Linked DNA regions of Homo sapiens: region 2 is linked to region 1. The links come from fine-mapping of genetic effects on gene expression. A gene starts in region 1. The other region holds a variant in brackets. All regions are shown on one strand. Distances are between the middles of the regions. Region 1 holds the start of MXRA5 (matrix remodeling associated 5). Region 2 holds the start of SNORA48B (small nucleolar RNA, H/ACA box 48B).

Region 1 (16,195 bases):
GGGTAAAATACTCTCCCTTGTAATAAAAATACAATATAACATAATAATAAAAACAAAGCAAAACTTACCTTCATGTGTTGGTTCTTGCTTCTTTCCTCTAGTTCCTTACCAGAGGAGTAGTGGATTTGGTAATTTAAGAAGTGTCAAATCTTCCCTTCAGCAACCACATGCCTGTCCAGGGAGTCAGCTCACAAATCACGCATCAATTATAAGAACAGATGGTAGACCCTGTGCAAGAGCTCTGTATGAGTTTCCTGTGGCTGCTAAAACAAATACCAAAAATGCTGGGTGAAAACAACACACATTTATTCGTCTGCAGTTCTAGAAATCAGAAGTCCTAAATGAGTCTCCTGGGGCTAAAATCAAAGTGTCGGCCAGGTTGGTTCCTTCTGGAGGATGCAGGAAAGAATCCATTTCCTTGCAATTTTTACCTCCCAGAGGCTGCCTGCATTCCTCGGCATGTGGTTTCTTCCTTCATCTTCAAAACCAGCAACAACCAGCAGAGACCGTCTCACATCTCATCATTCTAACCTCCATTTCTTCCTCCCTCTTCTACTTTTAAGAGCCCTTGCAATTACATGGGGTCCACTTGGATAACCCAGAATAATCTCCTCATTTTAGGATCAGCTGATGGGCAAACTTCATTTTCCCTCCAACTTTGATTCCCCTATTGCCCTATAAGGTAAAATTTTCATAGCTTCTGGGAAAGAGGATGTAAAAACATTTAGTTAAGGATCTTGAGATGAGATCATCCTGGAGTAGAGTCAACCGTAAATGCAATTACAGGTGTCCTTCTAAGAGACGGAAGAGGAGATGGTACACACACAAAGGAGAAGGCCACGTGGAGACAGAGGCAGAGACTGGAGTGATGCGGCCACAAGCTCAGGAATGCCTGGAGCCCCCAGGAGCTGGGAGAGGCAGGAAGGACCCTCCCCTAGAGCCTCCAGAGAGAGTGCAGCCCTGCCCACACCTTGATCTCAGACTTCTGGCCTCCAGAACTGGGAGAGCATAAATTTCTGTTGTTTTAAGACACTCAGTTAGTGGCGATTTGTGCGGCAGTCCTGGGAAATGCATACAGATTGTGCCCACGTTTGAAGGCTAATTAGGAATCATTACAAAACCACAGTTTCTGTTTAAGCTAGATATTTTCTTTGCCTTTTTCTTCTTTGTAAGGTATTCAGGGCAACATTTAGAAGCCGAATTTTCTCATCCAGGCTTTCTAACGGCTTTGAGTTATTTGTTTCTTTCACTTTATTCATAAGAGAGTTATATTTATATCTTTAAAGAGCGTGTTCCAAAGTGTTTTGATACTTCTTTAAAATACATTAGTGCTCCTTTGAATTTAGTTTGAGTTTTAGTGAATCTCTAAGCTTGTCCACTTACAAACACACACCTATATTTATAATCGAGTAAATCTCAGTATGTTTCAATCTCATGATTATGCAGGGAATCAAAGGTCACTGTGTTTAAGTACTAATTTCCTCTTCTGTATTTTAAGAATAACTTAAAACTTGTTCCATGAGTCACCCCGGGTCTGTTAACTAAGGCGGCTTCTTCTAATTCATGAAAGAGACATCTTACCCAAAGGGAAAGCACTTCACGTGGTGTCCTATAGAATTTTGAGTATTCATCACCTATAGGAGGTCTTTCTGAAATTAATAGTTTCATGCTGAAGGAGAGACCATTTGCCATTTTTATTTTGAAAAGTGAGATGGATCTTGGAATCCATCCACATGTAAGAACAATGTCGTAGGACAGGGGTTTGCAACCTCATGGGCCATGGACTGCTACCAGCCTGTTAGAAACCAGGTTGCACAGCAGGAGGTGAGCAGCAGGCCAGTGAGTGAGGCTTCATCTGTATTTACAGCTGCTTCCCATCCTGAGCTCTACCTCCTGTCAGATCAGCAGCAGCATTAGATTCTTACTGGAGCAGAAACCCTATTGTGAGCTGCACATACGAGGGATCTAGGCTGCAGGCTCCTTATGAGAATCTAATGCCTGATGATTTGTCACTGTCTCTCCCATCACCCCCAGATGGGACTGTCTAGCTGCACAGAACAAGCATGGGGCTCCCATAGATTCTACATCATGGTGAGTTGTAGAATTATTTCATTATATATTACAGTAGAATAATAATATAAATAAAGTGCACAATAAATGTAATGTGCTTGAATCATCCCAAAACCATATGTCCCACCCCCATCCTGCTCTACGGAAAAACTGTCTTCCATGAAATTGGTCCCTGGTGCCAAAAAGATCAGGGACCGCTGCCCTAGGAGATTTCTAGACCATGCCACTTGAGGGCAAGGTCTCCACCAGCCAGTAGTGCTCAGAACTAGTTTCAGTGACATTCTTTCCTTCTTCCTCACAAGCTTCTAGGGCAGCTTCCATGTGGAATCCCCTAGAAGCCATTTGGTTTTTATTCCAAGAGGCCGCTTGTCTGAAAGAAGACAAGTCAGCAAAAATGTAAGCCAAAACAGATGGGAGGAAAAAAAAGAGTCTTGACTCTTTAAATATAGAATTTTTAAAACTAGACTTTATTTTTAGAGCAGTCTGAGCTGCAAAATTGAGCAGAAGGCACAGAAATTTTTATATATCCCTTTCCTACACACACACACACCCCCTCTTCCATGATCAATAGCTCTCAGCAGAGTGAGACATTTGTTACAACAGATGAACTCACACGGAGACATCGAAGTCACCCAAAGTCCGTAGTTTTCATTAGGGTTCCCTCTTGATGTGAACTCCAGAATCGTGAGTATTCATCATTTATAGAACATCTTTCTGAAATGAATAGTTTCATGTTGAAAATGTGCCATTTTTATTTTGAAAAGTGAGATGGGCCGAGTGTGGTGGCTCATGCCTATAACCCCAGCACTTTGGGAGGGCGAGATGGATGGATGACCTGAGGTCAGGAATTTGAGATCAGCCTGGCCAACATGGTGAAACCCCATCTCTACTAAAAATACAAAAATTAGCAAGGCGTGGTGGTGCGCACCTGCAGTGCCAGCTACTCGGGAGTCTGAGGCAGGAGAATCGCTTGAACCCGGGAGGTGGAGGCTGCAGCGTGCCAGGATTCCATCACTGCACTCCAGCCTGGACAACAGAGTGAGACTTCATCCCCCCACAAAAAAGTGAGCTAGGTCTCGATTTCTGCGATTTCTGCTGAATGACCCATCCAGGATTGAGGTCTTTGAAGGGATTCATTAATAATTGCTGACATTCCCTTGCCTTTCCCTGTCTGCAATTCACTGGCCTGTGTGGTCTGGGTTGGGGAGGAAGGGGATAACCTTCCATGATCTCATCTTCTGCAGCTGTTTTCTACCGACTGAAATTTTAGGGATCCAGAGCGGAGAAGCCTGTGTCTGTGAGTTCCACCGTTCTAGGTGCCGCTGGTCCCGGTAAGACACAGTAGTAGATAAACAGCTTTCATTTTGCCGAGAAATCCCCATCAGCACATCTGCCCAAGCTGGGTCAGGCTAGTTCACTTCTCCACGATGTGTTTTCTCTGTAGGTTGATATGCACCATGCTAAGCAGAATTTTCTCCAGCCTAATCTGCAGAGATAACTCAACTGTGCTCAGGAGAGCTAGAGGGTTTCTCTGACGTGTTCTTTGTATTTATTTACTTATTTTCCACGCTGCTGTTCTATTTTAAAGTATGCTGTTGAGAAAATTTGGAAGCATTTTAGTACATGCAAGAGAACAGAGTATTCCTACCGACTGTGCTATGAGGATAAGAAGCAAAACAAAAATACCCCCTCATTTTCATTGAGGTGGCCAGTAGCCCGTATTTTCATTGAAGGTTTACCCTACACAGATGAGGGCAAGTTCCCATGGAAAATTCCTAAAAGTCTGTTTCTGCTCAAATAAAGATACAACCCCACTAGCTATTAGTCTGCCCCTGAGATTTCTGAGCTATGCAAGCCCATGAGTTTGAAGTAGAGATTTCCTGTGTCGATTTTTTTTTTTCCCTCCAGTCATCCAAGGGTATTCACTAGGTCAGCCCTTCTCGTGATTACAGAGTTTGGGAAGCAGTGGGGTTTGCAGTCATGTGACTAAGAAAGTTACTTTTACAACCCTTGTTAAGAAAATTACATAGTGATCCACAGAGTCCTTTAGAATATTAGACTTTCACATTGAAATCAGAATCGCCAGGAACTGCAGTTCATACACAAAACAGCCAGTGCACCTCCAGAGACTCTGCGCTGGGGTAAAACCTGGATAGGAAGATAAAAGACACAGCAATAAAGCTGAAAAAAATGACTGTAGATTCGCTGGATCCTATATATAAATATTAACTACAGATGTGGTGCAGGTAGTATGTTCAGTTCTCTCTATACAGCATTGCATTCTGTCTTTACGCCACCTCCAAGAGGTAAAATTACCCTTATTGTACCCTTGAGAAATCTGGTTTTAGGAAGGGAGAATAGTGTGTTCTAGGCCCTCTGGCCAAGAAATAGCGAGTAGTAGGAGGAGGTGGTTTGAGCTCTACTATCTGTCTGACTCGATCACCTATGGCTCTGCTGTTGGTTAAAGCCTTGCAAGAAAAGTGGATTTTAAAGATCTTATGACGGAGGCAGAGGGATGATGGCTCCCCAGTGGTAAGGGCCTCCTGGGTCTCCTGGGCTGCAAGTTTCCCTACCTCCACATTTCTAGAGGAAAGGGGGTCTCGATGGAGGATCAGGGTTGCGTGATGGGAAGTGAGCTAGCAAACCTGTTTGGATTTCCTTCTGAATGCTCTATTTTATATATATATATATATATATATATATATATATATTCACAGATGTCTTTTGTAGATCAAAGACAAAACAGGCAAATGTTGATAATAAGGACATGTTGTCAAAATGCTGGTTCAGGAAGAGAAATGCTGCTAACCAGAGGAACAGTGAAAAGCAGTGGCTGGTAAAAGTCACTGGTGCATCCTGCAACAAGCTGCAATCCTTCAGGTTCCATGGCATCTGGCGATTAGGAGGGCTCCGGCCTTTTGTTAATCACTGAGCTTTTGCTTGAAGTACATTCTGTAGCTACAAGGACTGACCTGCCCTTCATTTGATCATCCCTCCTCACCCTCCACATGGTGGAATTATTAGCAAGCAGATGAATTTAATTTAACCGACATGTACTCCAAACCTCTTGTATTTAAGGAACTCTCTTGGCACTTCAAGGGATTCAACAATTAATCAAACATGGTCCCTGCTCTGGGAACACATCACCAAGCAAGCAGGCAACATTAGCAGGACAAACATCAAAACAAAAAAGACTAAATGCAGCAAACTATGCATTTTATTTAAAAAAAGTACAGAATGACGAGATTCCATAATGCTTTATTTGTGGATTTATTGTACAAGTTACGCCCTGGGACTTTTCTAATCTAGGCATTTATTTTTATTAGTATGTGTGTTATTAAAAATAATTTATTGAGGTGAAATTCACATCGTAAAGTAAACCATGTTAAAGTAACAATGTCATGGCATTTCGTACATCCTCAATATTGTGCAACCATCACCTACATGTAGTTCCAAAACGTTTCTGTCACCCTAAGCTAAAACCCTGCTCCCATTCAGCGGTCTCTTTCCGCTGCTCACTCCCCTTCATCCCATGCATGAAATTTGCAAAGCAGAATTGAATTAGTTGACTTGATATTTTATTTACTTCACACTTGTAAGGAATTAAAGCCATTATGTTTGAGTTAACCATCTCATTTCCGTAAACCTGTGCCTTTAACTAGACTTCGATAAATCATTTTTGGGGTGCAGATTGTACAGGTAACACAAGTATTTAGAGGTATTGATAGATATTATCTATTAAATGTGCCAATAATAATCCCCCTGGATAAGGTAGTATAAACAGATTTCCTTACTGCAGAGAAATCCAGACTTTTTTAAATGTTTTTTTTTTTTGAGGCAGGGTCTTGCTCTGTCACTGTGGCTGGAGTGCAGTGGTGCGAACTTGGCTCACTGCAAACTCTGCCTCTCAGGCTCAAGCAATTCTCCCATGTCAGCCCCCAGTATGTAGCTGGAACTACAGGCATATGCCACTATGCCTGGCTAATTTTTTTTTTTTTTTTTTGTAGAGATAGGGTTTTGCCAGGTTGCCTAGGCTGGTCTCAAACTCCTGGACTCAAGCAATCCTCCCGCCTTGGCCTCCCAAAGTGCTGGGATTACAGGCGTGAGCCACTGCGCCTGGCCAAATCTAGACATTTCTTAATAGAATTCAACGTCAGTCATGCGCACATTCATTCATTCATTCATTCAATTGAACGCTTAGTGTATGCTAAGCTCTGTGCTATACTCCAGGTGTCAAGAAGCTATGACGGCATAAAAAGAAGGTGAGTGATTGTCCACAATGCAGGAAAAAAGCCCACTTTAGCAATGGGCATGGAGGTAAGGAAATACTATACAATGGAGATTGAGGAGAACTTTGTCAAAACAGTGGCGTGAACCAACAACAACAAAAATCAGGGATGTGCTACTTGTTCTTGACAAGCCAGATCTATCACCAAAAGGAAGATCCCAGGGACAGGCTGGGAAGCACAGGGCATGGCACAGGCCACCCATGGAAAACTTCAGCCTTGGGTTTGAGGATGATGGCATCCCTCTAAGTCTCAGTGATGGGCTGGAAGGGATGAATGAGAAGGAGTTGGTGGAGGAAGAAGTTGTCAAAATCTAAGACATATCCATGCAACCGCAGTGAGAGAGGTGGAGAGAAGAACACGTTGGGCCAAGAGATTCTTAGGCATCAGGATCTAAACTTGGCAACCAGTTGACTATGAGGAAGACATGAAGGAGAGGCAGAAGGCAAGGATGGCTTGAGTTTCTAGTTTAGCTGACGAGATGGGTGGCAACATCATTAACAAGGGTAAAGAGATGTTCAAGAGACAGTTGTTTTTTGTTTTGTTTTGTTTCGTGATTTAATCAATGGGTTTGGGGCATGCCCAGAAAGAGGCTACCTAAGGGCATTATTTGACTAATCCCTGGAACTATGTCAACACACACTGAAAACTAAAGCTAGAGAAGGAATGAATTCCCATTTATGAACCAGTATTTCCTGACTATCAACTCTGTGGAAGCCACCCTAGGCGCAGGAGGCAGGTGGTGAGGAATTCCTAGACGCTGTGTTTCTTAGGAGGAGCTAAGATGAACCACGCTTCATGCAGGGGAAGCAACTTGTTTCTTAGGCTTAGTCCTTCCTTCCTCCTGAAAGCCCCCTGACAGAGTGCTGGACGTAGGGCAGGACTTCTGAATCTAAAGAGCAGGCACTTCTCAATTATACTTTCTCCATGCATTGCCTTTTAAAAGCTGCATGCCTGCTGGGCTGGGTGGCTCACGCCTGTAATCCCAGCACTTTGGGAGTCCGAGGTGGATGGATCACTTGAGGCTAGGAATTCGAGTCCAGCCTGAGCAACATAGTGAGACCCTGTCCGCACCAAAAAAAAAAAATTAGCCCAGCGTGGTGGCGCAAGCCTCTAGTACCAGCTGCATGGGGGACGGAGGTGGAGAATCGCTTGCGCCTCGGAGGCAGAGGTTACAGTAAGCCGAGATCGCACCACTGGCACTCCAGCCTGGGCAACAGAGCGAGACTCTGTCTCAAATACATAGATACATATATACATACATACACACATACATAAATGCCGCACGCCATCAGCCTGCTTCAGGGGCATCTCAGCAGACAGGATTCGTTGTACAAGTACATGGTACCACTGGGCTTGTAAAAAAAATTTTTTTTATACTCACAGATGTCTTTTGTAGATCAAAGAACACAACAGGCAAACACTGACCCTAAGGACATGTCAAAATGCTGGTTCAGGGAGAGGAATACGGCTAACCAGAGGTATAGCGAAAAGCAGTCGCTGGTGCACCCTACAACAAGCTGGTGCAATGGTGCCTTTCCGGGCCCTACACACCTGTCTGAGCTCCATGTTTTTACCCCAGGTTGGCTCTGCTGACTGAAGATACTCGCCTGACCTCTCCCCACCATTCCAGGTCTGACTTATCCAGGAAGCCAGGCAGCCGCCGCCTCCTCTTCCTCTGCCTCCTGGAATAGGGACCTACCCTCTGCACCCTCTACTTTTTGCCTTGTCGCCAGGTCGCTCCCACCCTCCCACCGCCCCCTCCCCAGACAATACCATCAGACTCTCCGAACGTCCCAACCCTCGCCTTGCCCCTCGAATGCTCCCCAAGCCGGAGGGGAGCCGTTCCACCTTTCTGGCAGGAAGACTCTGGCAAGGGGAGGGAGGCGGGCGCCGGGGAGTCCTGGAGAGGCGGGAGGGCGTGGCGGCGGCTCTCACGTTGCAGCCCTGCCTGCAGCTAGTGGGATGCCGGCGGGGCCAGCCCGCTCCTGCTTGCACACGGTCTGGGAAGAGCTGCCGAGAAAACACCGTCTGGCCCGGAGAAGCGCAAACCCTGCTCCTTCTCTCTCTCCTGAAAGGAACGGAAACGTTCCCAGCGCTGCTTAGGCGCTCTCCAAGCGCGGACTCTACTGCGGCTCCCACCGCGCTCCCTGCATCTCGCCCTTCCCTCCTGGGGTCCTGGACTTCTCTCTGACAAAGAGCCCTCCTTCCCCGAGCCGCCTGCGGTTCTTGCAGCTGGAGTGGGCGAGGCATGCCCACCCGGGCCCAGGCGCAATGAAGACGCGAGAGGAAGGCTGAGCGCAGAGCGGCGCGGCCAGGGTCCCTTGGCTCGGGCCCGCGCCCCGTCTCCCCGGGGTGGGGCAGGGTGGGGGTGTGCCGAGGCGTGGACTTGGGGAAGCCTCGCAGCGCCGGGAATAAAAGGGCGCCGGCTTGCTGTGCCGCGCTGGGAAGCCGAGCTGCCTCACCCCCGGCCCCGGGAAGGGCATGGCCCCGGCAAACTCCCGGCCGTGACTCGCGCGCCCCGGCTCGGTGGATGCTCCCGGCGCACCGCTCCCGTGTGCGGCGGCTTCCCAAGGACAGGTGAGGACCCAGGGTGGCCAGGGCGCCCCAGGGCTGCCGTGTCTGCCTGCAGGGGGTGAAGGGATTTGAGACACCCAAGGGAAACACTGGGGGTAAAGGGCCTGCATGCAGGCAGATTGCACCGTTCCCCAGCACTGTTTGAAGTTGCTAAGAAATCAGGATACCTGAATTCCTGCAATTTTAAGTAGCTAAGGATCAGATAGGGAGGAGAGCCGGATCTTGAAGGAGGATGCACTGAATAGGTCTAATTAAGCCCAGACATCCCATGCCTCCTTTCCTCCCTCTCCCCAAAGCGCTCCCCATCCCTGGCTCTCTCTGGAGACCTTCAACCCCGCCATCCCGCGTTTCTAGGAAGCTGCCAACGGAATTCCTAAGTGAAGCCCACTCTGCTCTTGCAATCGGTGGGGGAAAGGACGCTTGAGGAGCCTCTTTCCAAGTTGCTCAGGCTGTGGCTACTTCAAGTCTCCTCTCCCTCCTCTCTTCCCCCTCTCCTTCCCCGCCTCTTTCCTCCTACTCTTACCCAGGCTTTCCCTGGAAAGGGGACAGCCCAACGCCTAGAGTGATCCGAGCCATGCAAAAAAACCGGGACAGTCATCACGCAGACAAAAGGGGTTTGGTGTCCGAGTCCCGGGCGGCGGGGACTCGCAGGGCCACCCCAGCCGCGTTCCGGGAAAGCTCGTAATTCATCCCGCAGCCAGCTCGACGCGACCCAGCGGACTCTGGAAGCCGGCCAGGGGCTCAGGGCTGCCCGCCCGGCCACTCCAGGTTGTCTGCCCAGGGCCAAGACGAAAGCAGACGGCCTCACGCCCCCACCCCTGCTTCCCGGCGGGGTTCGCAGACCGTCTCTGGCGGCCTAGCTGGCGCCAGGCCGCTTTCTCCGCGGCGGAGAGACCCGACCCCGAGTCCCCGGGATTAGGGTTGTCTGGGGGCGAGTTTCCTGGGTCTCCCGGGAGGTTGGTGCCGGGGTGGGAGGCCGGACAGGGAGTTGGGGCTGAAGAGTCCTATGGAACGCCCGGGCCAAGTCCGCCCGCAGGCACAGGACGCTGGGGACTGGCGCGGCTGCCCTTGGAACCAGCCCAGCGCCGAGGTCAGGCGCGCAGGCAGGGGCGGGGAAAGCCCGGGCTCTGGCGAGAGAGAAAACTCCGAGGACTTTTGCAGAGCTGCAGGAGCCGGTTTGTTCCAGCGCCCAGAGGCGGAGCCCGGACTTGCTTTTTTGCAAAACTACCTGTGCGCCATCAGTTCTTTATGGGCAGCTGAAGGGAGACGCGCCCCCGGGCTTAAGAGAATAACCTTTTCTAGGTCACTTAAAGGCAGGAAAAGCTACAGGTTTGGGATGTTCCTCTCTTATAGGAAGGATTTTAGAATTTTATTTTTATTTTTTGAGACGGAGTTTCGCTCTTGTTGCCCAGGCTGGGGTGCAATGGCTCGATCTCGGTTCACCGGAACCTCTGCCTCCCGGATTCAAGCGAATCTCCTGCCTCAGCCTCCCGAGCAGCTGAGATTATAGGCATGCGCCACCACGCCCAGCTAATTTTGTTTTGTTTGTTTGTTTGTTTGTATTTTTAGTAGAGACGGGGTTTTTCCATGTTGGTCAGGCTGGTCTCGAACTCCTGACCTCAGGTGATCCGCCCGCCTCGGCCTCCCAAAGTGTTGGATGACAGACGTGAGCCACCGAGTCCGGCCTGGGTTTTAGAATTTTAATCAGCAGTTCGCGCTCGTTCAGAACCCGGGCGAATGGGCAGGCGCGTGTTTGTTGTGTATCCCTATTTACTTTCCATGTGTGTCACTATTTTTAAGTGAACGCCATTCAAGAGATGACAAAAATGTTAGATGACATAGGCATTGCCAGGACAAGAAGAAAATGATCACCGCCATTCTAAATGAAGTAGCTGATGCAATCTAGCTTTACCCGAGCTTTTCCATTTTTTAGTGACTCCATTTTTTTCTGTTTGCCTGAATATATTTCATAAGCAGTCCCTTCCTGTTTATTGAATGATCAGAGGTTCCCCCAAACTTCCTCCCCGATTAACAGCAACTCTATATCATCAAAAAAACTCTCTGGCTTTTCCAAGACAAAAACATAAGGATAGTAAATAAACCCAGAAATAACAGGATGAATATCCTTCTAGCAAATACCTCTTTAAGCTCTTCAAGAAGCTAGAATTAAAGGTTTGAAAAATATCATTAAAGGAAAGAATACGAATAAACACTTCTTGGGAAGTTTTAAATTCAAATATATGCAATATATAATGGCTCAGTCTTGTTGGAGGCAGAAACACAATATTTTATTATTTTTTAATTATGGATACATAAATATAAACCTCTTTCTTCTCTCTCTCTCTCTCTCTCTCTCTCTCGTCTCTCTCTGTTTCATAGCCGCAATTACAGAGTGCAAGATAGATTTCCAAATCATAGTATCGAAGCCAAGAATCAAGACTATATTCTATAGTCATGATTAAAGTGAATGGTGAAAAGTTTAGAAAAAAAACCATGTTTCATCTTTCTCAATTCCCATGGTTTAAGCGTCACTACAACACATCGTGTGAAGTCCTGGGAAGCTTGAAACCCTGATGCACAATTCAAATTTAAAAATTGCCCACAGTTCGTCGGTGCTACCTGTGAATAAGCTCATCTCTTCGTTGTTCTACCTCAGGTATCCGAGAATCAGGCACCCCGACAAGATGCCCAAGCGCGCGCACTGGGGGGCCCTCTCCGTGGTGCTGATCCTGCTTTGGGGCCATCCGCGAGTGGCGCTGGCCTGCCCGCATCCTTGTGCCTGCTACGTCCCCAGCGAGGTCCACTGCACGTTCCGATCCCTGGCTTCCGTGCCCGCTGGCATTGCTAAACACGTGGAAAGAATCAATTTGGGGTTTGTACCACTTTCTTCCCGAACCTTCCCACTGTCAGTGCGTGCGTCTTGATCTGGTTTTGCGTGTGTGTATGTGCATTTACTTAACTTCATATGTGCATTTCCTCTGTGTAGCTCTGTCGAGAATTATGGAGCTGCAGATGGGCAGAATAGAGAGAAAAAGTTTTAGTTATGCTAAACGCAGCTTTTTCGATGATTATCTCAATATATCCATCAGCTGCCACTGCTGTAAGGTCTATTAACGAGCAGCATGAACAACTTTAGAGTTTGTTGAGAAATTCCCTTGATAGCATTTCTTTAATACATTGTTGAGGTGAATGCATGAGACACACACTTAAACATATGAAGATGATTTAAGTAGACTTCAGCAACGATTTAAGAATAATAAAAATAAGCAGAACATCTGTGCCATTTTATAAGTCATGTAGATGATAGAATTGCGACTTTGAGGCAATAAAAGAGTTCCTGCAGATTTTGCCTGTTAAAAATATCAACGTCTTTTTAAAAACCTATTTTGATGTGGCTTGCCAGACAGACTTTTAATATACTGGTTTCATTTTATACACACGAGGGTTGTGTGGACCGAAGTGTTAGTTGCTATGAACTACAGGTGCTCAACTGCAATTTTAATAGTCAACAATCATTTGGAGTTCGTCAACAAAATATAATAGCTACTTTTTAGCATCCATCCCCAGAACAACTGATTAAATTAGTGTTTGTGAAATATCCACCATGGAGATGTTTTAGTAAAAATAAAATGGCCAGATTTGAGCCAATGCAAAATAACTGTAAATGTACCTGGACATCTTATAGAACAAAGTTAAAAGAAAAAACTCTCCTCCATTGACAGTGGTAGAAGAAGAGAATGAAACATTGAGATAATAAGATGGAAATTTCTCTATCGACAGTGGTAGAGTCAGGGAATGAAGTGTTGAGGGAGTAAGATGGAAACTTCCCTGTTGACAGTGGTAGAATAAGAGAATGAAACGTTGAGGGAATAAGATGATAATTTCCCTAACCCATGGCAACAGACCATTAAATAGGTTTCTCAATGAAATGCTGTTAGACTTTATGAGTTGACCATCTGAACATCCAACCACAACAATGATAGCTCATTGGGGAAAACAGCTTGGCGTTGGCAGAGGAGGGAATAGTAACACATAAGCCAGCTTCCCTTTTTACAATCTTGTAATTTATCGGACACATTTCTTGTGTAATGGAAGTAAGAAAAAGGGAAGAGGTGCTAAAGCCCATTAGTTTTGTTTATTTATTTATTTACTTAACTTTAAGTTCCAAGATACATGTGCAGAGTGTACAAGTTTGTTACATAGGTATATGTGTGCCCTGGTGGTTTGCTGCACCTATTGACCTATCCTCTATGTTCCCTCCCCTCAACCCCCACCCCCCAGCAGGCCCTGGTGTGCGTTGTTCCCCTCCCTGTGCCCATGTGTTCTCAATGTTCAACTCCCATTTATGAGTGAGAACATGCAGCGTTTGGTTTTCTCTTTCCCTTGTTAGTTCGCTGAGGATGATGGCTTCCAGCTTCATCTATATCTCTGGAAAGGACACGATTTCCTTCCTTTTTATGGCTGCATAGTATTCCATGGTGTATATGTACCACATTTTCTTGGGCATATGGGTTGGTTCCATGTCTGCTAAAGCCCATTTGAATCCTGGGGGAAGGTGCGTGTGATATTTGCAGAACAGAAAGTGGGGCTTTAACTGTAACTTCTTTTTCCTCCACCCTTGGTGTGCAAAATGGCTCTGTCTAGGAATTGTTTTTTATACATGAACCATTTTAACACATGGTCTAACTTGCTGGGATTAGCCACCTCATCTCTCAAACCCAGCACCTTGGCAGGTCCCATGCTGGGGGTACCATCAGCCAGGCCTTGGTGGAGCCCTCTAAAAAGCTTGGGGTTGATGCAGAATGTATATATTTTATATATATTATCTTTATAATATATATAATATATAATGTAAATATACATATTATATAATATATAATATATGTATACTATATTATATATTATATATATTATATATAATAATAATATATATTATATATATTATATATAATAATAATATATATTATATATATTATATATAATAATAATATATATTATATATATTATATATAATAATAATATATATTACATATATTATATATAATAATAATATATATTACATATATTATATATAATAATAATATATATTACATATATTATATATAATAATAATATATATTATATATATTATATATAATAATAATATATATTATATATACATAATATATAGTAATAATATATATAATGTAAATATACATGTTATATATAATATAATATGTATATTATATATATTAATTATATATTATATATAATTCTATTATATATTATATATATAATTATATAATTATATACATTATATATATTATTATATATTATATATAATAATTATATATTATATATATTATGTATATAATATATAATATATAATATATGTATAATATATAATATATTATGTATAATATATTATATTATATTATGTATAACATATTATGTATAATATAATATATTATATAATATATAATATATATTATACACAATATATATTATACATTATATATATCATGTATAATATATATTATACATGATATATAATATATATCTATTATACATAATATATATCTATTTGCGGTGCTTCTTGCACAGCAGGTTTGTGTGTTTGTGTTGTGTGTTGGGAAGGGGGATATCAGGCTGGAAATGAGGGTGGAGACAGTCCCTGCATGCACCCTCCCCAAAGAGGTGATTTGTTTAATGGCTTGAGACTTACAGCACCAACAAGACTATTACTTCTGAAGTTGTTTGCATCTCATTTACAGTTTCTGGGATGCTTTTCTTCCCGTTCATTTTTAAACTGAAGTACTTTGTAAGTGCAAAACATAACTAACCTCTAAATTACAACACCATTTCTGATGGTTTCATTTTAAACAACTCACGATAAAGATTGACTTTAACGTAGGAATAAAACAGACATACCAACATGTTAAAGTTTCTTTTTCCTATTGCTGCCAGTAATATCTAGAGATAGTTTTCTGTAATATTAAAAAGAAAAGAAAAAGTTTAAAACCCTAGAGAATCACTTCACTGCATCAACATCTATTACTTCCATCTGGTTTAATTTGTAACAGGAACTAATATACTACTTGAAAAAAATCACTAATAATATCATAATAGCATTGTTTCAGAAAAATCAATCTCAAATTAGGTAATGAGTCTGGCATCTTGCATTTTGTTGGGGAAAAAACTGAAACAAGAGCAATGTCTAACAGATAAAACTCAGAGATTGATTTGTGTTTTAACAGTCTGGAGAAAATATAAGACTCTCAAGGAATGAGGAATTGTTGGCCAAGTGCTAATGAAACCTTCTATTCCCACACAGCTGTTTTTAGGGTTCTTTGTCAGCATTGCTGTTTCCTGCTTGGACAAACTAAAAGCGTTTCTGAAAATTGCTTTCCAAATATTTTTTTTCAGGAACCAACAACATAGCATCCACCTAGAGATGGATTTACAGACTCTTAAGTATTTTTTTCCCTCTATTAAAAGACTGGTTTTGATGATGCCTTTCTGCAACTTCAACAATGCCCATACTTGCCTATTTTATTTTAAGTTCTGCCTTGTGATATTAACCGGAACCGAAGACATAATTTTGCAAATATTGTCTGCCATAAACATTTCACAGAGTTGGTTATACATTCAGTGATTGCCAATCAATAGGCGATGAAGATAGTCTGGAATGTAAGCCAAGGGGCTAATAAGCCATAGAACTGCACTTTATGCAGGGTCATCCCAGTCTCCAGTTAGATTCTGTTCCCTGAGTGTCGTGCTAATTTCCCAGACTCTGCTGATTTTTAGAAGGATGCAAGAAGGGGACATGTATACCCTTGGGTTCTGAGAGGGGGTACTCAAGTGATTCCCTGGGCTTCTGTATGTTCCAGAATATCCGCCCCATTCTCACATCTGGCACCCTTGGCATCTGCATCTGCAAGCTCTCTAATGCCCCTTAAAAACAAGCAGGGGGGTCCGGGCACGGTGGCTCATGCCTGTAATCCCAGCACTTTGGGAGGCTGAGGCGGGTGGATCACGAGGTCAGGAGATCGAGACCATCCTGGCTAACACGGTGAAAGCCCGTCTCTACTAAAAAATTCAAAAACATTAACTGGGCGTGGTGGTGGGCTCCTGTAGTCCCATCTACTTGGGAGGCTGAGGCAGGAGAATGGCGTGAACCTGGGAGGCAGAGCTTGCAGTGAGCCAAGATCGCGCCACTGCACTCCAGCTTGGGTGACAGAGCGAGACGCCATCTCAAAAAACAAAAAAATAAAACAACAACA
Region 2 (16,195 bases), 180 kb before region 1:
ATATTATAGCGAATATATGACAGCTGTGCTGTAAAGAGGAATGGAAATAGACACAGATTGGCTCACAGATCAGCATCCGAAGTGAATCCTTTTTGTTAAATGCTAAACTATAGATCTTACTAATTATTCAGTCATTCTTTGGATATTTATTTTGCAAACTGAATTTGTAAAATTCTATCTGTGTTACCTTAATTATTCATGTTATGACTCTGACAACTTGCTGTGTTCCTTACCTTGAATTTTAGCCACATTCCAAGAGTTAACTTTACCCTTTCCATGTATACAAGGTTTCTCCACTTCTTATTCTCCTATGCTCAGCACACATTTACTTTGAAGCAAACCCTACCTGCTTAATTTTTTCTTTAAAGTGAAATGTCACTGGTTTATTCACCAAGTAGTCTTCTGAGGGCTAAAGAAAACTACTTCTTTCTTCTTTGTAATATTTTTGTCCACAAGGCATTCTAAACATCAGTCAGTCTGCAACAGTGGTTCTTTCTCTGAACACTCAACATGTTTAAGCACTGTCATATGAACATGGTCACAAATATTATTATGCCATCAAATGGAGGACAATGTAATGCTTTAAGATTTAAATAGGCTTTAAAATCAGCATGGCCAGGTGCAGTGGCTCACACTTGTAATCCCAGCACGTTGGGAGGTTGAGGTGGAAGGACCACATGAGCACAGGAGTTCTAGACCAGCCTGAGCAACATAATCAGACCTCATCTCTACTAAAATGTTTTGAAAAATAAGCAGGGTGTGGTAGTGCACACCGGTTGTCCCAGCTCTTCCGGATGCTGAGGTGGGAGGATCACTTGAGCCTAGGAAGTCACTGCTGCAATGAACTATGACTGCACCACTGCACTCCAGCCTGGACAACAAAGCAAGAACCCAGCTCTATAAACAAACAAATAAATAAATAAATAAATAAATAAATAAATAAAATCCATTACCTGAAACATTCAGATAACAGTCATCAAAACAGTAAATACCTTTTAGAAAAACAAATTCTGTTCTATATAATTAATTAATGTGTTTATTTTGAGACAGGGTCTTGCTCTGTCGCCCTGGCTGAAGTGCAGTGGTGCAGTCGTAGCTCACTCCCGGGCTTAAGCAATCCTCCCACTTCAACCTCCTGAATAGCTGGGACTACAGGTGTGAGCCACTGGGCCTGGCTGACTCTATTATTTTATTGAGAATCCTAAAGTGGTTGCCATGGGCTGCAACGTGGGTCTCCCCTGTCCCTAGATGTTCATGTCCTGATCTCAGAAACCTGTGAATCTTTTACATTACATGGCAAACAGGACTTTCCAGATTAAGGCTCTTGAGAGGGGAGATTATTCTGGATTATTCAGATGAGCTCAGTGTAACACCAAGCTCCTTGGAAGAGGGCAGCAGCAAGGAGTCGAAGACATGCGATGAAGAAAGCAGAGAGAGACAGACAGAGACAGAGAGACAGAGAAAGAGAAGGAAAGACAGACAGAGACAGAGAGGGACACACAGAGACACACACACACACACACACACACACACACACACACAAAGAGAGAGAGACAGAGACACAGAGACAGAGAGAGACAACGAGAGTTGGAAAAACACAAAGACAGAGAGAGACAGAGACAGAGAGACAGGAAGAGACAAAGAGACACAGGGAAAGAGAGACAGAGAGAAAGAGAGACAGAGAATGGGAGACAGAAAGGCAGAGAGAGGGAGACAGAGGCAGAGGCAGAAAGAGAGACAGAGAGAGGCTGAGACAGACAGAGGCACAAGGAGAGATAGAGAAGAGAGAGGCAGAGACAGACAGAGAAGGGGGAAGTGAAGCAACACTCCTGGTTTTGAAGACAGAGGAAGGAGCCATGAGCCAAGGAATGCAGGCAGCCTCTAGAAGTCAGAAAAAAGCAAGAAACGATTTCCCTGGAGCCTCCCAAAGACAGCAGCCCTGCTGACCCATTTTAGATTCTGACCTCCAGGGTGACTGGGGATGTGTGAGGAGAAGGGAGCAAGGGACAGGAGACCCAAACTCCACAGTGAACAATTGGCTTGCTTGGGAGTGAGCCTGCAGAGGAGTGTGCACTGCTTTTCTAGAAGCTGGTGTTCGTGGCTCACAAATCTTCCTTGACCAATCTCTAAGCTGTCATCTCTAAGCTCTCATCAAGTCGGTTATTCCATGGCATTTGGAGCAGAAACTGGCATTTGATAACTGAAGTCCATTCTCTCGCTCGCTCGCTCGCTCGCTCTCTCTTTTTTTTTTTAGACACAGTTTCACTCTCATCGCCCAGGCTGAAGTGCAGTGGCGCAATCTTGGCTCACTGCAAGCTCCGTCTCCTGGGCTCAAGTGATTCTCCTGCCTCAGCCTCCCAAGTAGCTGGGTCTACAGGTACCTGCCACCACACCCAGCTAATTTTTTTGTAGTTTTTGTAGAGACAGGGTTTTGCCATGTTGCCCAGGCTGATCTTGAACTCCTGGCCTCAAGTGATCCTCCCGCTTCAGCCTCCCAAAGTGTTGGGATTACAAGCCTGCCCTGAAGTCCTTTCTCAAGTGAATTCAAATTTGTTTTGAGGTGGTAATGTTCCAAACTTAACGAGCAAACTATAGTTGCTAGCCTCTCATTCAACTAGTTGGGGCCAAGTAACTAAGTTCAATAGGATTGCAGTAGAAATGTCGTGGGACATTTAGGAAGACTGCAGAGAAAGAGCTAATTCACTTGGCGCAGAGGCCATTTTGTTCCTCACTGCTCCCTCATCTGCTTTCTGGGATGTAGATACAATGGCTGGAGCTTCAGCATTCACACTGAGACATGAGGCAAACTTGAAGATGAAAGTCATGTATTAGGGTGGTAGAAGAGATAAAAGGAAGGAATCTAGTTCCTGAGCATCTTGAAGCCAGATTTTTTTTGGAACATTCTTGTTCCAAGTTGTCTGTAGCTTTCAGTTTTGTTGTTTTTACTTTTGCCTTTTCTGAACCTGAGATTCATCTGTTATTAATTCTCTCAAGAACAACTACCTGGTGCATCTTGCTGAAATATGTGGCTGTCAGTGAATACATACTGTCTCCTTTCTAAAAGTCTTACTCAGTTGTGATTTTTATTTCATAGTCACCATGCTTCTCTAGTTTATTTGCTCTAGATAGTGAACTACTAGTGCAAAGTTGTTATTATTGGAAGAAACCAAAATTTCTATGTTTTAACCCCAAATAGGATCATGTAATTCTTAGTTTATTGAACCCTTTGGTAGATGAATGTGAACTTATTCTACTGATGCACCCATCTGTTTGCATGCATGTTTGGAGTCAGGGGTAAATGAAAAGAGATTCTCCTTCTCTTCCTAGAGCTCTTGGTCACGCTGCCCCAGGGACTGAGCATGAGCATGGAAAGTGTGAGAAAATTAGCATTTCCCCAGCACACTTCCCAGTGTTAACTCTTTGTCTTTACCAGGTACCCTTTTTGAGCATTGTTTCCAAGCTAGGAAGAGTGTAAGCTTCCTGTTCCATTACCACTGCAGATGTCTGCTTCATGCCATCTGCTTTACGACATCAGTTATGGATGACTGATCTTCACCTTTGCTGGAGGGTCAGAAAAATTCACAAGCCTCCTAAGATTACAGTAAACAGTAGCAGTAAAGTTAAGCTGTCATTTTGGGCAAGAAATGCCCTCATATGTGTCTAAATATTTTGAGTGCCAGTGCTACTCATCTTCTAGTTCCTCAGTTTGCTGGGAATTGAAGAAAAAGATTTCTTCCTGTTGGAAGAGTGATGATGATATCCCTGCATTGTGAAACTTCAGCCAAATCAGAAAGGTGAAATCAACAGACAAAATTTTACAAGTTGTATATCATAGGCTATTTTCCCCCTAAATTTACTTTTGGGAGACTGTGGAGCCATGGGGGTTTCTGTAGGATGGTGGAATATGAGGCTGGGTTTAAAAAGGCAAATTGAACAGTGAACAGGGTTGCAAGCCTCAAGTTGCTTTATAGAAATGAATGAATGAAGATGGGGTATCCGTCAGAGCCCCACAGGGAGCACATTTCACCCAGGGTGTCCAAGTGTGGAGATGTTAATCAAAGCACTGATTATGAACGAATGGAAAGAAAAGACAGAAAAAGGAGTTCAGATGAGGCTGACCAGAGAGGCTGATTCTAACCTCTGCCTGTAGGGAAGAGGCAGGAAAAGAAAGTTGTGGAATCTTGTGAGAAATATGATTTGGAGGACATGGACTGCGAGTGAGTGAGAGCTTAGAAAGATGTGGAAGCCACTTTGAGCTTGGGAGAACACGTGGGATATTGTCGGCATGGAAGGATGGTGGGGGTCCCTGTGAGCTTGAAGGATATAGGAGGGCCTGTGAGCCTGGTGTGGTACAGGTTGTTTGCAGGATGAAATCAGAGACTTTCTCGTCCTGCTACCTGATAGCTGTTTTCCTCATTTTCTGTTCATATTAGTCCGTTCTCACATTGTTGACGGCTGTCGTGATACCTTGATTCTTGTCTTCCTAGTTTAAAAGAATTTAAACACAGACACACAGCCAAGGAGATGCAGCATAGAGTAAATTATTGCAAAACAAAAAGAGTATTTTGAAAGTCAGCGGGAGACTAGAGAGTACAACCTGAGAAAGTAGATTCAGGGCAGGCAGCTAGTTAGGGTGACAGAGTATTGATTATTGCTGGAGAAACTCCCTTTATGGGAGTCTTACATGATGATTTATAAGGAGGTGGAAAGAGGTGTTGCTGTTAAGCATGTTCTGGGTGGTCCTCTGGGTGCACATGAGCAGTAGCTGTACGTGCTTTTTCATGCATTGCAGGTCTCATTAACATCTTATATCTCTACCCGCAGGTGTGCTTTTTACTATTAAAATGAGCAAAGGGTCAGTTTGAGGACTGGTAACATCAAAATGCGCATGCTCTCTGTAAGGGAAAGTTCCTACTGAAGAATTGTTTTGCTTGAATGAGTTCAATGACAGTGCAAATGCTGAAGCTTACTGTGTTGACTGTATGGTCATGGTAACCATGGTTGCTGCACACAAAGAACACAGTCATTTTCTTGACTACCTATCCTGCCTCAGCAATGCTGAAAAGAAATACCTGAGACTAGATAATTATGAAGAAAAGAGGTTGAATTGGCTCACAGTTCTGCAGGCTGTACAGGAAACATGGCAGCTTCTGCTTCTGGGGAGGCCTCAGGAACTGACAATCATGGTGGAAGGTGAAGGGGGAGCAGGCATCTTAGTGACTGGAGTAGGAAGAAGAGAGAGAAAGGCGTGGGGAGGTGCTACACACTTCTGAACAAGCAAAAGATTTCGTGATCACTCACTCACTATGATGAGAACAGCACTGAGCAGAAGGTGTTAAACCATTCTTGAAGGACCCACCCCTATGATCCAATCACCTCTCTCCAGACCCCACCTCCAAAACTGGGGAATACAATTTGACATGAGATTTGGTGGGAACACAGATCCAAACCCTATCGCTGACTGTCTTTGAGTGCCTTTCTGATTTGTCCTAAGAAGCTCATTTTATTTCCCTGACCTGGGTAGAGTGGCATCCAGTTGGTGGTGCCCATCTCATATCAGCCAGGGACAAAGCAACCCCTTGTTCCTCCCAGCTTGGCTTTTCATCTGTGCCTATGCCTGGTTCATGCCTTGGACACATTTTTTTTTTAAAAAATGTAAAGCTAATTTTAAGGGATAACAGCATGGCAGAAAAAGGGGTAAATAAATGGAGAATTGGACCACCTATGTAGAATAACCAAGGTAGACCTGGGTAAAAAATTAGAGTTTGCATAAGACAATCAATCATGAAGCCACACACACACACACATGTCCCCCACAAGTGAGGATGACACATGAAAAAGTGACTTTTCCAAATCCTTGGGGAAAAATATGATTCAGAATCCCTCTTCAGAAGTCACTGGTTTTTATTGTGGAGTTGTGAAAGGTCAGTCTGTGCTCTGGAAAATCCTGATGTGAGTGGGACTTGTGTTCAGTTTCCCGTTAACCCTTTTTGGGAGTCTGCCTTCTCCTTTAGCAGATTAAGTCTTGTTAATTCCAGGCTCTCTGCTGCAGTAGGGGGTTTGTCTTTCTTGGAAGTAAATCAGCTGGGTTTTCGAACCTGACAATCCATTTGCTGACAGTGCACTATTTATTAATTCTTACTCAAGTGTCAATGGCTACTTAATTATGGCAACAGGCAAACAGCACTGGCATTTTACCAGACCTAATGTCATAATAGTAGAACACCTACTGAGTGGGAATTTTCATTACACCCAGAAGAGCAAGGGGATGCTATTTTATCTAC[G/C]AGTTGGCTGTGAGGAGAAACTGTCTGATTTGCTCTTTTGCAAACAGCATTTGTATCTACTCTCTCCCTTTTTTTCCCACTCCAAATTATTCTCTCCTGGTTTCCCACTCTCTGTCAAATTATCTGATATTAACACCCTTTCCTCCCCTCCCCTGTCCTCCCCTCCCCTCCTCTCCTCTCCTCTTTTCCTTTCCTTTCGACAGGATTTTCCTCTGTAACCGAGGCTGGAGTGCAGTGACACATTCATAGCTCACTGCAGCCTCCAACTCCTGGATATATATATTACATATATGACAGTCATTCCTTAAAGATATAATGAATCTGCCCTATACTAATGTACCATTTTTTATTTTATATACCATATTTTTACTGTATATTTTAATGTTTGGATGAGTTTAGATACAGAAATATTTACCATTGTGTTACAATTGTCTACAGTATTCAGTACAGTAACCTGCTATACAGGTTTGTGGCCCAGGAGCCACAGGCTAGACCATATAGCCTAGGTGTGTAGTAGGCTAGACCATCTAGGCTTGTGAAAGTGCATTCTGTGATGTTCACACGATGAGGAAATCACCTAAGGACATAGTTATCAGAATGTATCTCTGTTGTGAAGTGACACATGACTATAGCCTTTGCCACTACTATGGTCTGAATGTTCATGTATTCTCCAAATTTATCCTAACTCCCAAGGTTATAGTATTAGAAATTGGGGCTTTGGGGAGGTGATAAGGTCATAGGGGTGGAGCCCCATAAATGAAATCAGTGCCCTTATAAAAGGGACCCCAGAGAGCTCCCTCACCCCTTCCACTATGTGAGGACATAGCAAGAAGGTGCCATCTACGTACCAGGAAGGAAGTCCACACCAGACACTAAATCTGCCATGTCTTGATCTTGGACTTCCAGAGTCCAGAACTGTGAGCGACAAATATCTGCTGTTTATAAGCCACTCAGTATACTGTATTTTGTTATGGAAGCCCAAGCTGACCAAGACAGTTACAGACTGAGATCTGAGAAATCCCATGGTTTTGTGCGTGAAAAAAAAATTAGAGATAGGACCGGTGGAGGTTTTTTCTTGGAATTTAGTCTAATTTGAGTTCCATTCCAGAGGCCATTTCTTACTGTGATTGGAAACGTCTGGTAGCCTGTGTTCTCTTTCTTTGTATTCCTGCTCTGATCTTATCTTCTAGTCTCCAATCAGGAAGTTTAATCTTGACAGGCACTGACAGAAATAAAGAATGTGACCATTTCCTCCAGGGTAACCGTGTGTTTTAAGTTCTCTGAAAAAAACTAGCATGCACAATTTTGTACATTCTTATTTTTTAAATAAAACCATCTACTTTCAAAGAATAACATGCTATGGATGGAGAAGTCTCTTCACTGCATGGTCTGACTTTTGTTTACTGTAATTTGGTGATTCGATGATAATCAGAGAGGAATCAGAGCATTGATATACCTGCTGGGGACATTAAAATGGGATTGAGACAGAGTTAATTCCCAACTGGGGAACAATGATGCAATGTGTGAGAACCATGCCTGTCTACAACAGCTCTTGGGCTTAGGAAAATCTGCACATAATTTCTTGTAGAAACGGCTGCCTAAGGGCGGTAGGCTGTTGAGGTCTGCAGTTTGTCTGGTCTTCTTCTGACAGTTTATAACAGATTTTTTCTTAGCATATACTGCTTGCACACCCGCATTTGGGTAGGCAGATGTCTGCAGGTGGAAGGTGACATTTTGCTTAAAGGATACTGTGCAAACAGTGCCTCATCTTGCATACAGCCAGGAAATATATATCTGTAACTGTGACCACATGTGTATGTTATTTAGTGATGTCATGAAAGAGTTGCTTATGCTGTAGTCAGAAAAAAACGGGTGAGGTTAACGGGCTTGGGGAATTTTAATCTTGGACAGCCTAACACTTTGGTGAACATAAAGGCAGTCTGGATAACCCATTGAGACTATATATTTTTTGTTGCAGAAAAGCATCTATATGCTTGAAATACACATCTTTGTTACACATATGGAGAATGTGAAGGCTTTCTTTCTTCCCAAGCATGTACAGCTAAGGCTACGTTTTCTAAATCCCAGATAAATTGAGTGCAAAAAACTCCAGTAGTAAGAAATGCCACTAAAGGAACAAGACACGTCCTCTACAGCATATGCTATGTTCTTCTTCTGCTTAGTCTTGCTAAAGCAAATAATTTTAATTCACAGGTGGATAGTCTCGAAGGTATCTTCTTTGTTTATAGACTGAGGTTTACAGAAACTAAACAAATGTAAACATTGTTGTTATCTACAAATAAAATCAAAGATGATAAATTCAGATTAACTGTAATTATCTGGATGTTTTATGCCAAAATGTCTTTCTTTTGAAACAACCCAACATCAGAAAGCAAAGCATGAACTATAATTAGATTATCTCAGTATAGACCTAGTTTCCCATTTTACTGGCACTGTACTAAGTTGTCTAATAGGTGAATTACTCATGATATGCTGGGTTTGATTTTTTATCTTTTCAGGATAGAATTATAATGTTTTTTTAAATTTTTATTTTTATTCTATTTTATTTTTTGAGATGAGGTCTTGCTATGTCGCCCAGGCTGGTCTTGAACTCCTGGGCTCAAGCAATCCTCCCACCTTGGCATCCCAAAGTGCTGGGATTACTGGTGTGAGCCACCATGCCCGGCCTACAATGATTTTTTTAAAGTCCATCAAACTGTATTTGCATTCTTTTGTTCCCCTCAAAATATTAGATGGAATATTGCATAATATATCTAACTTTTTAAAAGAAGTCATTTAAAACTCAATAGTGTAAATCTGACAGTGTTTGAGCTGGCTCAAAGTTTTGCATTAAATAGAAAACAGCCCGACACACACTCCAAACATCTTACATTAGGGTTTCAAGGGATAGAAGCAAGAGTTGACCCAACTGTGTTTGAAAATTTCCAGAATCTCTTATCGCAAAGGTATGCCGCTTTGATGTTTTGACAATTCTGATGGCGAGATGCTTTCTAGTAGGTTGATTTATGATTGGGCTGTTCTCTCAGCTCCATCTCCTCAACTCGGGGAGTTTTCCAGGCTTCTCTTAGTTTCTGCCTTCCAGTCATAGCCTGGAAATGCTCTCAAGGCAGTGAGCTGGGGCCACCATAGGTCTCACTTTGTTTTTCTGCTTCTAGAGAATCACCGTCCTTTTTTTTTTTTCTCTTTTGAAAATTTATTTATTTTCCCTTTATTTTAAAAATTAATCTTCTTTTGAGAATCACTATCCTTAACTGCCTGGTATCCAGTCTTGAAAATAGTTCTCCCTTAAATGGTTGACTCTTTACTTTTTGGTCATTTGAGGCTGGAGGGAAAACTCTGTTTTTGTTACTCCATCTTGACCGGAAGCATAAGTATGGTGGCCGGCTTACACTGGTTTGCCTGTGGTTTTCTTGGTTTTAGCTTGAATGTCCACATCCCAGGGTGTGTTCAGCACTGAACCCCTAAGTTCTGAGTCAACTAGATGGTTGGCCACCCTCGGTGGATGTCCAGATAACATTCTTGCACTCTACTTCCTTGATCTCTCTGGTTTTCTAGTAATGGTAGACAGTCCAAGTTATTCTGTTTCTTTGTTAAACTTATATAAAATGCATGCTATTCCTAATGTCTGAGAGCTAAAAGTGCTGTCTTTATTCAATGGACATCCTTATTAAGTTTATAATTTTTTACGGTTTGTGAACTGAAAAAAATGACACCTAAGAAGTGACCAATTAAGTAACATGAAACTGTGTGTGTGTGTCTGTACATATTATTATATATATAAACGACATCAGACAAATCTGGCTCAACTTTCATGTAGCAAAATTGTGATTTGTTCTTCAGTTGCCATGAACCCCCACATTGAGGATCATGTAACCTGAATGTGCCCAGATGAACCAAGCATGCAACTTGAGAGAAAGCTAACTGAGGAGCAGGGACTGAACTAAGAAGCAGACACCACGTGTCAAGATTCAGGATCCAATCAGATTGAACCCTGTTGTCACCCTATGGCAAGATCCAATCAGATCATGCCTCATGGCATCACTTCATTGCAAGGTCCAATTAGATCTTGTCTAATTACCTTGTGCTTATAAAACCTGACCCAAAGCCCAGCTCACAGAGACAGATTTGAGCATTACCTCCTGTCTCTTTGCCAGCTGACTCACGATAAAGCTTTTCTTTTGTCAAAAGCCAGTGTCATGGTATTAGTCTCTATGTGCATTGAGCAGCGAGCTCATTGATTGTTTGGTCATCTATAGCTCTATCTATAGCTATAGATACTCATCTACAGAAACATCAGGCCTATGTAATGATAGTAATGATGCCAAACATGTGCTATAAGACCATAAGGTCTTTACGGGTTCTCTGATCACCATAATCCAATATAAAATGTTCTTTTTTGAAGTTGAGCAGAAAGAGAGATGAGCAGAAATCACTTAGTGGGTTGAGGAGAGTAATGCAAAAGATATTTGGAGAGTAGGAGGAGGAAGTGGGCTGGATAAACACAGTAGGGACTACATGTTGGCCGCTTCCATAGAGACTGTTTCTGAGGTGAATGCACTCATGCCAGGAAACAAAAATAAAGAGATATTTTAGTTTATGAGTGTATCTACTTTCCTAATGTGCAGCTGTTTATTAACATTAATGGATGTCTGGGTTTTTCTTCACTCCATCCAAATTTAAAGCTTCATAGAATCCTAAACTTCAGTGTTGGAAGCAGCCCTAAACCCAATCACCCCACTTCTTTCAAGCAGAGCTCTTATCCAGGATTAGAAATCAAAATCCCAGGGAGAACATTATCAAAATTCATGCACCCTATCCTTTTTCAGTAGGTCTGGGGGAGGGGAGAAAATCTTAACTACCTAGTAAAAAAAATTCCCAGATGGATCTTCCTGATGTGTACCCTTAAAGAGTCACCATTATATGGCAAAAGAGTACCTTAAAAATAGTTGCATTTTCCACTTGATCATGCCCAACAATTATGTGAATGAGAAAATGACATATTTTGCAACTAACCAGCCAAGCTGAAAAGATTTTTTCCTTCTGTATGTTCATTAGCAAATTGGGACAATTTAACTCGCATCCTAGCCAATTTCTGCAGAAGCCGGGGCTGCGTGTCTTTAGCTGGTTTGCAATGATACAAGCAGCTGTATCTCCACTGGATGGAATGTACTGTCTAACACGTGGCATGCAAAACAGGATATGAGAGCATTTTGGCAAGCAAAGGGACTCAGCTTTAAGGAGCTCTGGGGCCTTTCAGCATCCACTCTGCCCCCACTACCTGCTGACAACTCACATCGATGCCTGGATGTATGGATCTTGCTGAAAAATCAAAATGTAACTGGGAAATAGAAATGCAGAGATTCAATATTGTGCAAGGTAGGAGGAAGGCAGGAAGGAGACTTGCCAATAAGATAAATGTTGAATGAATAACTGTAGATAATCTGCCTATGGTTGGGCTGATAGTAGAAAGTATGAAGGAAGTTTGCTTAGACTGATTCCTCAACCTGACATTGAAGCAAGCGCATGGTGGCATTCATGGGTGGAATGGTGTTGAAAACAAGTCAAACACAGAGCAAACTTGTCCTGTCTCTACTTGGGTTCATACCCTTTCCCTTTGCAAAACTGAGCTGTGGTTCTTCAATTCTTTCCAGACTTACCCTTCTGTGGAACAAGGTTTTGTGTCTAATCCATTATGGGGAGAGTGACCTTAACATTTTTATCTTTCTCCCTTTTTCCTTACTCTTTCTCCTCTTCTTCCTTCTCTTTCCTCCTCTACCTTCATCTCCTGCTTTTCCTCTTTTCCTTCTCCCTTTTCTCCTCCTCCTTATTCTTCAGGGCTTACCCTTTGTGTTAATGCCCAAACAATATGATTTGAGTCTAACTTAGACACTGGGGAAAAGTTTATTCCTTGTGGGTGCCTTCACTAGTACTTATGATATCAATACACAGCATCCAAAATATGACATAAGCCTCTACCTTAATTCTCCAAATGCAGTTAAATCTAGGTGGTGACATATACCGCAATCTTAATGCGTTGGCTAATGACGGGCAGAACAAGCCAAAAAGAAAAGAAAAGGAGAGAACCTTAATTTGGAAACTGCCAATGACAACTTTTATGGTCCATTGCCATAATCCCCGCTGGTAGGTTCTTGAAGGCACTCTTGATATGATACAATGAACGTGGCATTTTACTTCCGTGGTTTTCCTCACCAAAACCTGTAAGCCCAGTCTGATCATGAAAAAAAAAAAAAAAAACTGACAGATCCTAACTGAGGGATATCCTAGAAAATACTTGCCAAGTGTCTTCAATACTGTCAAGGTCATCAAAAACAAGGAATGTCTAAGAAAATGTCTCATCCAAGAGGAGCATAAAGAGATGTCATAACTAAATGTAACGTAAGATCTTGGAAGATGCTGGAACAGAAAGAGGATATTGGGGAAAACCAAAGAGACCTAAATAAAGTAGAAAATTTAGATGATGATGATGGCGATGGTGATGGTGATGGTGATGGTGATGATGGTGTTGGTGATGATAGTCATGATGATGGTGATGACCATGATGGTGACGGTGATGGTGGTGATGGTGATGGTGATGGTGGTGATGGTGATGGTGGTGGTGATGGTGATGGTGGTGATGGTGATGGTGATGGTGGTGATGGTGATGATGATGGTGGTGGTGGTGATGGTGATGGTGGTGGTGGTGGTGATGGTGATGGTGGTGATGGTGATGGTGATGGTGGTGATGGTGGTGGTGATGATGGTGATGGTGATGGTGGTGGTGGTGATGGTGGTGGTGGTGATGGTGGTGGTGGTGATGGTGATGGTGGTGGTGGTGATGGTGGTAGTGGTGATAGTGATGGTGATGGTGGTGGTGATGGTGGTGATGGTGATGGTGGTGATGGTGGTGATGGTGATGGTGATGGTGGTGGTGATGGTGATGGTGGTGATGGTGATGGTGATGGTGGTGATGGTGATGGTGATGATGGTGTTGGTGATGATAGTCATGATGATGGTGATGGTGATGGTGATGATGATGGTGAAGGTGATGATGATGATGGTGATATAAGCTTCCAATGAGAGATAAATTTGTTTCTAAGTATAGGTCCGATGTGGCTTAGTAGGTACACAGGAAAGTCTTTTCAGGGAACCTAGCTCTCATTGCTGTCTTTGCTATACCAAAGAGTGTTATACATGCTCAGCAAACAATATCTACAGGAACTAGCCCTCAGGAAAGTAAAAAAAAAAAAAAAAAAGGGCAGCAGAGGGCCAGCCCATTCTTCTCATAGCTCACTGATACACTTGGTCACATTCTGCCACTACCTGCAAGGGAGGCTGCGGAAAGGTATCCCTACAGAGGCAGACGTGCCCAGCAAAAACTTTGGCCGGTGGGGGGACACTCCATGACAAAAAATACAAAGGAGAGAATGGGAGTTACCAGTGTCTGTCTTAGCCTTCAGAGAGATGATGATTTGAACCAGGAAAACAGCAGAGGGACTAAGGAGAAAGGGAAAGATTGGAGAGGGAAGTTATCCACAGACTTGGTGGAACATTTTGCCAGGTCTGATGTGAGGATAACGATTGGACATGGAAGCTAAAAAATGTGGCCATGATTTCTCATTTGGATAAACAGATAGTGACTCCTTGAGATATGACATGTAATGGTGGTGCAGTGGGGATGAAGGGAATGCTATGGTTTGAAGGTTTTTGTCCCCTCCAAAATGCATGTGTTGGATACATAACTTCCAATGCAACAGTTTTGGGAGGCGGAGACTAATGGGAGGTGTTTAGGTCATGAGGGCTCCACCTCATGAGTGCATTAAAGCAGCCAGAAGAAGAGCTTGGGTGGGAGTGGGTTCTCCTCTCTCTCTCTTCCTCTGTCTCTCCCCACAACAAGCCCCCATGTTCCTTTGCTACACGAAGACACAACCTTTCTCCCCTCTGGAAGGCCCAGCATTCAAGGCAGCATTCTGTAGACTCTAGGAGAATAAGTCCTGACCCATGGTACCTTGTTTTTGGACTTCCCAGACTCCAGAACTGTGAGAGAATAAATTTCTTTGCTTCATAAGTTAACCAGTCTGTGGTAATTTGTGATGCAGCATAAAATTGACTAAGATGAGGTGAGGGGCTAAGAAATATGAGTTTGAGTTAAATAGAGGCATCCAAGTAAACAAATTCAGTAGATCAATGACAATTTGAGTCTCACCAGGGAAAGGCTAAAGACCCGGGGAGCCATGTGTGTATGGGAGATATTTAATGGAGCAGAAGTAGATGAGGTCTCAGAGAAAAAGAAAGGGACCAAGTGTAAACTCTTACAAATATGGGTATGTGGAGGAGAGAAAACAATAAAATATAATGATAGATATGGGAAGTATGAGCGCTACCAGGAAGAGGAAAGGAGGACACTGTGGAAACCAGGGGAGGTTTCAGAATAAATTTCAGAAGAGAGAGACAAGGCAGAAGCCCAAAGAAGATAAACTCTTGAGAATGAGTTCCTGGGTTGGAAATGAGATCTCAACCATGTTTCCAAGGGCAGCATCACAGAGTAATGAAGACGGCGGGAGCCATAACCCATGGGAGAAAATGAGCGTAGACTATGGGTGAAGATATTTGGTAGTGACGGGAAGAAGAGAGAGTAGACGATAGCTTTTGGGAAAGAGCAAGTTAAGAGAAAACTTCTTAGTGAAGGCAGGAAAGTTTGAGAACATCTTCCATGTGTTTTTTTTTCCTTCTAAAAATGTCTAGCACCATCTGGCATCTTTGATTCATGTAAAGTTGTTGAAAGAAAAGGAGAAGAGAGAGTGAGCAGGAGGAGGAGAACATGAGTGTTAGCCTAGTCAGGTGGTGTCTGTGGTCAAGACATGACCAACGAAGAGGCCAACAGGGAGATTAGAATGGGTGAGCGGAGCAGGGTTTTGGGAGGGAGGAATGAACCCAACACCCTGGAGATAACGATTCCCCTGAGGATATGAAAATAGCCTTGTATCTAAGATGAATGTGGCTTGCCATGGGTGATGCTACACATTCCATCACAATAACACCATACATATAAGCTGTCTCAGTTCTTATTAGTTATTGCCTCATGTCCCCTGACATAATGAAAAGAGATTCTTATTAATGGTCTTTTATTCTCTTCTCTCTGTTCCCCTTGATGTAAATTATGGTTCTGAGTAAACTGTAAGGCTCTCTCTCTCTCTCTCTTTTTTTTTTGTCTAACTGCACTGAACTCCCAAATCCCATCATTCCACAGGAATCGGATTGATGTCATCTAAACCTCAGCATATGTTTTTTGTTAATGATGGAAAGTTTCTCTCACCATCACCAAGGGAGTTTGCTGAGACCTAAGGGTGTAAGCTAAACTCTCTTTATCATTTAAAAAACAAAACAAAACAGAATTACCAATGTCATTGGGGGAAACTATCTGGAAATATGAAAAATATAGAAAACATTAATACAAAGGGAATTCATACAGTCTATCTCAAATGCCCCCACGCTATGATATAATTTATTTTTATCAAGCTATGAAAAGAATCATATGATGTTTAATGGCAGCACCTTGATTGCATACGGATATGCTGAACATGTGTCAATTATTTTTTTTAGATGCTAAATTGACAGAATTTGAAAGCTCCAGATGTGAAAAGTTAAAGAAAAAAGTTGATCCCCTTGAGTTTTGTTGGAATTCTCTCGTGTTTATTCATGTTTCTTACATTAGTAAGAGTACTTATTTGCTCGTTTGGGAGAAGCTAGTTATGTCAAGGGTTTCTTGTTACCGATGTTTAAATAGCTGTAAAACATTCTTTCTCTACTTGGAGAGCTGAGATTTGCTTTTTTTTCCCCTTATACATTAGTACTTTGGAACCACTTGAATATGAGCTTGTTCAGGAGTCTTT

Evidence for each region. PIP is the estimated chance that this variant, and not a neighbour inherited with it, causes the effect. A credible set is the group of variants that fine-mapping cannot tell apart.
Region 2: its variant is the best candidate, but not a certain one, in a credible set for the expression of MXRA5 in fibroblasts (GTEx, PIP 0.90).

What each region holds. Positions count from the first base shown.
Region 1 is chrX:3,339,256-3,355,450 of GRCh38, reverse strand. It overlaps MXRA5 (matrix remodeling associated 5), which reads left to right and starts at 8,799. Exons shown (of 7, transcript NM_015419.4): 1 at 8,799-8,936; 2 at 11,590-11,805. The coding sequence starts at 11,618.
Region 2 is chrX:3,521,563-3,537,757 of GRCh38, reverse strand. It overlaps SNORA48B (small nucleolar RNA, H/ACA box 48B), which reads left to right and starts at 5,507; the gene lies at 5,507-5,641. RefSeq lists an enhancer at 9,129-10,328. The variant G/C (reference allele first, on the strand shown) is at 6,285.